Homo sapiens: one gene and its partner. The protein of the gene in region 2 interacts with the protein of the main gene of each other region in a pairwise test. Each region holds a gene or a part of one and is shown on either strand. Other genes may lie near its edges.

Region 1 (3,922 bases), on a different chromosome or scaffold from region 2:
GAGGGCCAACAACAGAACACTGAGGACCCCTAGCCTAAGGGTCAGGCAAAAGCTAAGTCACCTGAAGGAGATGAAGAGAAGATGGGGGAGGAAAACTGGAGGTTTTGTTGGGGAGAGTTTCAACTGGAAGGAGTCCAGTCAGCAGTGCACGGTGCTGCAGGTAAGGACTTCCACCTGGGCGTGGTGCCTTCTTTCCTTTTTTTTTTTTTTTTTTTTTTTTCCCCTACCAAAAGCAGACACTTGAGATGTGGTACCTTTCAAGGAGGCTGGGCACCCCTGAAGGAAAGTCCAGAACCTCACGGGTCTTTTGCTCAGTAACAGAAACCCTTTTTCCACTGAGCTGCTTGATGGGCTTAGATGGGCAAACCTGAATTACCATGCTTAACAGAGCTACAGGGTCAAAGTTAGCTCAGGACGCAGAGTAAAAGGAGGGGTTGAAATCAGTAAGACGGCATGGCCAGTGAGAAACTCTTTGTGGCAGGGGCACAGAAAAAACTTTCAAAAGCTGGGTGACTGATATGCAGTGATAAGTTGTCAGTTATGAAATGTCTCCGCATAACTGCTCCAGCAGCCTGTAAACCATGTTATTCTGCTACACACAACGGCCTGAATTTGAGAGTTGGGAGTGGGGTGTGCACCAGAGACCTAAAGGATGAGAAGTTAACAGGGAAATGAGAGGTGGGTGGGGAGGGCATAGGACTTTCCCTGGGATGCAAGATGGGGATTTGAGCCATTCTTATCTAAGGGGAAGGGAGACATCAGGTCTGTAGAGGAGAACAGCTCATTGGCTTTAGAGGTCACTGAGCACACAGTGAGAGGAATTTCATTCCAGTAGGGCAAGCAGATCTCAATGGGCTAGAAAGTGAATAAAAGTGAAGAATTGAAGGCAGAAGACAGAACAGAAAATGCTGTCAATCTTTAAGTGAGCAAAGTGTCTCAGTCTCTGATTATCCTCTTGTATTTTAAAAGGTCTGCCTCTTATAGTCCCAGATTTTTTTTTTCTTAAAGATATATTTGTAGTCTCTTACAGTTAGTCATAAATAGATCTAGGTGCTGAATAAAGGAACTCCTCCATTTTCCATTTGAAAATATATGAGATAGATATCTCTGCTTTGCATATCATCAAGACTGCTAATCTCATTAGACTGAGCACATTAAGACATTGGGAGGAAGGTTATTTGAACTGCAATATGATCCTGTATTTTTGGCTTTAAACCAACAGGGAAGTATTTCTAATTGGAGATACAAATTTCACATTAAACTTTTTTAGGATATGGTTTGTGGGAGACAGACTGACACACTCTTAGAATCTCACTGTATTTTAAGAGCTTGTTTTGAAATTTTAGGCTTTCATTTTCCCACCCTGACCTCCCAGTGTTTAAAGTAATGCATACTTGTAAAATAGAAATGTTGGGGTGAGGGATAGAGTTAGGATCAGGAGACTCAAACACTACAATAAGGAACAGAGTAGAAAATGGAAGTCCTGTGTGATTGATCTGGAAGTTAGGGTGAGGAACATCTGCTGAGTAAAGTATAATAATTTGTTGCAAAAAATGATATTGCATCTCCACATGACCATTTCTGTAATGGCTGTATCAGAATATCCTGTTTAGTGCCTGTTCAGTGACAGGGAGTCCCTGTGGCCACAGAGCATGGTATAAGGAGACCTTGAGCCCAGTTTTTGGGTAAGACCGGAGGTTAGGGGGCCAGCAAATGGATCTGCTGTTAGGGGCAAAGCTGCTCTGGAAGCACCCACTTGCTCGCATGGGGTCTATACCTCAACCACAGTACCACCTCCTCCTGTGTCCCTCCTCCATAGTTACCTTGTTTTGACCCCTAGAGCCAGGGCTCACCATTGCACTGGTACCTTGGGGTCATTCCAGAATGGCAGACTATGTGTAAATGGAGGGTACAGGTTAGAGGATGAGCTTAGGGATTTGAGGTGCAGCTAGTGGGGCAGTGGGGAGGTGAGGGTGGACTCTGACCTTCCAGGCACTGTAGGCAGGCAAGGGGAGTGAGCTGCAGAGCCAGGCAGGAAGGGCGTATGGGTGGGAGCACAGCTCTGAAATGCTTTGCATAGTTTGCATTTTGCTTCTGGCAGAATGAACAATGGTTAGTCAAGTCCTGAACTCCCCAGGGGAAGCCTCCAGCCTGGTTTCTGCCACCGCTACCACCTCTGTTTTGAGGATTCAGGCACTGCCCCGTCTCAGAGGCACATTTGTGTCTAACTTTGGGAGATCGATAGCAAACCCTGCCACCTAGTGGCAGGCCGACTCACTTGGCAGGCACGACAAGTAGGTTGAAGAGATCTTAAAATTATCTACTGTAATGGCAAAGATAGCTTTATTTGAATGACAACTATTTCAAATCCTCACAGCAATTTTCTAAGTGGTTCTTACTATCCCCATTTTGTAATAAGGAAGGTGAGACTTAGAGGGCCTGGATGATACTTGCCTGAGGTCATATAGCTAAAGTGATTAAATGAGTTGAGTTTTAAAACAATTAGAACAGTTTCTCAAACCTTACAGAGCACTAGAATCTCCTGGAGGGCTTGTTAAGACACTGATGCCTGGGCACCATCCCCAGAGTTTCTGATTAGGTAGGTCTGAGGTGGGGCTGATAACCAGCATTTTAAAAATATATCTTATTTTTAATTGACAATAATTATATGTATGGGGTAGATGTGATGTTTTAATATATGTATACATTATGAAATGATTACATCAAACCAATTGACATTCATCACCTTACCTGCTTATCCTTTTTGGTGGTAAGAACATTTAATATCTACTTTTAGTAATTTTGAAATATACATTATTATTAACCATTGTCACCATGCTGTGCAGTAGGTCACCAGAACTTATTCCTCCTAACTGAAACTTTGCATCCTTTGACCAACAGCTCTTCTTCCATCTCTCCTCTCCCTCCCAAAACCTCTGGTAACTACCTCTCTACTCTGTTCTTCTATGAGTTTGACCTTTTTAGATCCCACATATAAGTGAGGTCATACACGGTATTTGTCTTTCCATGCCTGGCTTATTTCATTAATGTGCATTTCTAACAAGTCCCCAGGTGGTGCTGATGCTGGTGGCACACAGGCCACACTTTGAGTAGTGTTGGCTTGGAACAATGTCTGGCACAATATCAGCACCAAATAAATGTTAGATAAAATTGATAGGTGAAGGCAGAGTCAGAATTGACCTCAAGCCTGTCTGACTCTAAAACTTGTTCTCTTTTTACAACATCATGCTGCCTCTCAGGCTTAGTAAAATTCCATACTTTGTCCCTTGCTTAATTTTTTTTCCTTCTCAGAAAATAAGTTGGAGGCTGGGTGCGGTGGCTCATGCCTGTAATCCCAGCACTTTGGTAGGCTGAGGGGGGCAGATCACTTGAGGCCAGGAGTTCAAGACCAGCCTGGCCAACATGGTGAAACCCCGTCTCTACTAAAAATACAAAAATTAGCCAGGCGTGGTGGTGCACACCTATAGTCCCAGCTACTCAGGAGGCTGAGGCAGGAGAATCCCTTGAACTCGGGAGGCGGAGGTTGCAGTGAGCCAAGATTGCACCGCTGCACTCCAGCCTGGGCAAAACAGCGAGACTCCAGAAGAAAATAAGATGGCGGCCAGGCATGGTGGCTCACTCCTGTAATCCCAACACTTTGGGAGGCCGAGGCGGTCAGATCACAAGGTCAGGAGATCGAGACCATCCTGGCTAACACAGTGAAACCCTGTCTCTACTAAAAATACAAAAAATTAGCCGGGTGTGGTGGCACACGCCTGTAGTCCCAGCTACTCAGGAGGCTGAGGCAGGAGAATCACTTGAACCCAGGAGGCGAAGGTTGCAGTGAGCAGAGATTGCACCACTGCACTCCAGCCTGGGCAAAAGAGCAAGACTCTGTCTCAAAAAAGAAAAAAAAGAGAGA
Region 2 (3,922 bases):
GGATTTAGGCTGGGCGCGGTGGCTCACGCCTGTACTTCCAGCACTTTGGGAGGCCGAGGTGGGCGGATCATGAGGTCAAGACATCGAGACCATCCTGGCCAACATGGTGAAACCCCGTCTCTACTAAAAATACAAAAATCAGCTGGGCGTGGTGGTGCGCACCTGTAGTCCCAGCTCCTTGGGAGATGGAGGCAGGAGAATCGCTTGAACCTGGGAGGCGGAGGTTGCAGTGAGCTGAGATGATGCCACTGTACTGCAGCCTGGAGACAGAGCGAGAAAAAAAAAAAGGATACTTGGATTTAATTAAAATACAGGAAGAGTGTGTCCAGAGTTATGAGTGTACACTATATTTTTGAGGAAAGTAAACAAGGAAACTTGTATCTTAAGCAGGACAATAAATATGTCTCAGTAACAGCATCAAAAGTGCCCTGGTTATAGGAAATAATTTAGCTATATCGAGAAAAGCCAAGACTACAGAATCAAGTTATATTGGAGGAAAATGGTTTTGTTCCAGAGCTTTAAGATAAACATTTTAGCATCAGGCCACACCAGAGTTAGAACCAGAGAAAAAGATTACAGAAGGCCGGGCACAGTAGCTCACGCCTGTAATCCCAGCACTTTGGGAGGCCGAGGTGGGCAGATCACGAGGTCAGGAGATCGAGACCATCCTGGCTAACACGATGAAACCCCGTCTCTACTAAAAATACAAAAAATTAGCCGGGCGTGGTGGCGGGCGCCTGTAGTCCCAGCTACTCGGGAGGCTGAGGCAGGAGAATGGCGTGAACCTGGGAGGCGGAGCTTGCAGTGAGCCTAGATCGCGGCACTGCACTCCAGCCTGGGTGACACAGCAAGACTCCATCTCAAAAAAAAAAAAAAAAATTACAGAAGTTGGCTGGGCATGGTGACTCATGCCTGCAATCCCAGCACTTCGGGAGGCCGAGGCGGGTGGATCAGCTGAGGTCAGGAGTTTAAGACCAGGCTGGCTAGAATGATGAAACTCTGTCTCTACTAAAAATACAAAAATTAGCTGGGCACGGCGGCGAATGCCTCTAATCCCAGCTACTCGGAGGCTGAGGCAGGAGAATCACTTGAACCTGGGAGGCGGAGGTTGCAGTAAGCGGAGATCTTGCCACTGCACTCCAGCCTGGGTGACAAGAGCAAAATTTCATCTCAAAAAAAAAAAAAAAAAAAAAAGTCAAAGATTACAGAAGTTGACAAAAAGGTTGAAGGAGAGGATTATCATTTCAACCAAGAAAAACATGTATCTTTTTAAGGGTATAAAGAACGAACAACAACGATTCATGACTTGGGAATCATGTGCAGCGAGGTATAGCACAAGTAGAATTTTTTGAGATATAAATTTGAGAAGTTTTAGAAAAGAAATAGATTGTAGAATTTAAAATCAAAAGCTCTTGTAATTCACTAAGAGCAAATTTATACTTTAAGACAATGTTATTTTAACATAGAGGACCAAAATCTCAATCTTTAGAAACACTTATAACTTTTTTTTGATTATAGCCAACTTAATCACATATACATTTAAAAAAATTTTAAAGAACTTTATTATAATTTCTTTTTTTTTTTTTTTTTTTTTTGAGATGGAGTCTGTTGCCCAGGCTGGAGTACAGTGTCACTATCTTGGCTCACTGCAAACTCCGCATTCCAGGTTCAAGTGATTCTCCCGCCTCAGCCTCCCGAGTAGCTGGGACTACAGGCATGCGCCACCATACCTGGCTACTTTTTGTATTTTTAGTAGAGATGAGGTTTCACCATTTTGGCTGTGCTGGTCTCGAACTCCTGACCTTGTGATCCGCCCACTTCAGCCTCCCAAAGTGCTGGGATTACAGGCATGAGTCACCACGCCAGGCCTATTATGATTTCTGTAGACTATTTATGACATGTTTGAACTTTTGTTTTGCCCTACCCTTTCTCTTTTATAATTAACCTGTCATTTTGCTTTAGGAAAATAATTTACCATGTAATAAATTATTATCATGCAGTGGCATGATCAGCTCATCGTAACCTCAACTCCTGGGCACAAGCAATCCTCCCTTCTCAGCTTCCTGAGTGGCCAGGACTACAGGTAAGTGCCACCATGCCAGACTAATTTTCAAAATTTTTGTAGAGACAGTATCTCACTGTGTTGTAGAGACAGTGTCTCACTATGTTGCTTAGGCTTGTCTTGAACTCCTGATCTCAAATGATCCACCTGCCTTGGCCTCCTAAAGCATTAGGATAACAGTCATGAACCACTGTGCCCAGCTTTTTTAAAAATTTAATATATATATATTTTTTAAATGGAGATGAGATCTCATTATGTTGCCCAGGCTGGTCTCAAACTCCTGAGCTCAAGTGATTCTCCCACCTTAGGGTCCCAAAGTGCTAGGATTACACACATGAGCCACCATGCCTGGCCTGTGCTCAGTTTTTTAAGTTTTTTTCTATTAACCATTTTTATAGCCTGTGAATGTCAGATATTTACCTAAGCAAGAAATTTAAAGTTAAATACATGGGTATTTTGTTGATAACTCAGAAGGTTTAGCTGTATTTCTTAAACCAACAATATTAAATTAGTCTTACTTATAAAAAAAATCACACAAAGATTATTTTGGTTTTGGCTGGGTTCATAGTTTTTTACCTTTGTGCCAAATCCTGACCCTGTAAAATATTTAATAAGACAAGTATAAATCTGACCATAAATCTAGGCAAATATGTATGTTGACAATTTTGAAGACATTTTAATATTTATTTTACTAATAATTTTAAAGCCAGTTTATTTATTAAAGAATTACTTAAGTCATGTGAACTTGGAAAACCTTTGGGCTTACTAATTTATGAGTGCTCATTTATCTATAAGTCAATTGGGTATCATGTAGATACAACATATAACATATTACATGTATATATGTAAACACATCTAAACACACATATATATGCACAAATAGAGATCTTATACCTTTATTTTTTGATTTGTCTTTTGAAACAGGGCCTCACTCTGTTGCCCAGGGTAGAGAGCAGTGGTATGACCATGGCTCACTGCAGCCTGGACCTCCCAGGCTCAAGTGATTCTCCCACCTCAGCCTCCTGAGTACCTGGGACTACAGGTGCGTGCCGCCATGCCCAGCTAACTTAAAAAAGTTTTTTTTTTGTAGAGTCAGAGTCTCACTATGTTGCCAGGGCTGGTCTTGAGCTCCTGGGCGCAAATGATCCTCCTACCTTGGCCTCCCAAAGTGCTGGGACTGCTGGCATGAGTCACCTCATCTGGCCCTTATAGTTTTCATTTTAGAATTTTAGTCATGAGATAGTAATACAAACTCACCAGTTTATAAAAGATAGTTGGATCTAAATTATTTTTGGAAAAAATTGGGACCTGTTAGTTCACATGGCTAAATTTTATTTGTCCCAATAGGTAATCTAATGAAGGCTGTGAGCCAAAATTTTTGGGTAAGGTAGTTCGATGGCAGTTTTATTTTAAAAATCTTTTATCCTTTTATTCAGTTTCAAATGAGTTTAGAGTTAGGTTTTTAATGTTAACATTTTAGCTTGAACTGGCTGAATCGTATAAGAAAAACAAAATTTCTAAGTCTTCTTAAGTTAGTAATACTATAAACAGTGAGCTTTATCTCAACACAAGTAGAAAAGTCAGTAGTTTCAAAGTAGGCAGAAAAAATATATAGAGGTAGACAGAGAACTTAGACGATCCTACATGTTAACTCTGTAGTTCTGGGTGGACCACTTGAGTTCTAATCTGTCTATTATTTTAAGATGTGCACAACAATGGGCCATAATATGTATCTAGCTGGAGTCTCAGAAAACCCAGTATGTCTTTTTTTATTTTTCCGAGACAGAGTTTCACTCTGTTGCCCAGGCTGGAGTGCAGTGGCATGATCACAGCTCATTGCAACCTCTCTCTCCTGGTCTC

What was found.
Region 1: the proteins of RDH12 (region 2) and PLEKHA7 interact in binary tests that used the Homo sapiens proteins (3 or more experiments, as listed by UniProt).

What each region holds. Positions count from the first base shown.
Region 1 is NC_000011.10:16,818,801-16,822,722, reverse strand, and holds part of PLEKHA7 (pleckstrin homology domain-containing family A member 7), read left to right. Parts: intron 1-3,922. UniProt on the Homo sapiens protein: Required for zonula adherens biogenesis and maintenance. Acts via its interaction with CAMSAP3, which anchors microtubules at their minus-ends to zonula adherens, leading to the recruitment of KIFC3 kinesin to the junctional site.
Region 2 is NC_000014.9:67,699,853-67,703,774, forward strand, and holds the start of RDH12 (retinol dehydrogenase 12), read left to right. Parts: upstream 1-2,033; 5' UTR 2,034-2,083; intron 2,084-3,922. UniProt on the Homo sapiens protein: Retinoids dehydrogenase/reductase with a clear preference for NADP. Displays high activity towards 9-cis, 11-cis and all-trans-retinal. Shows very weak activity towards 13-cis-retinol.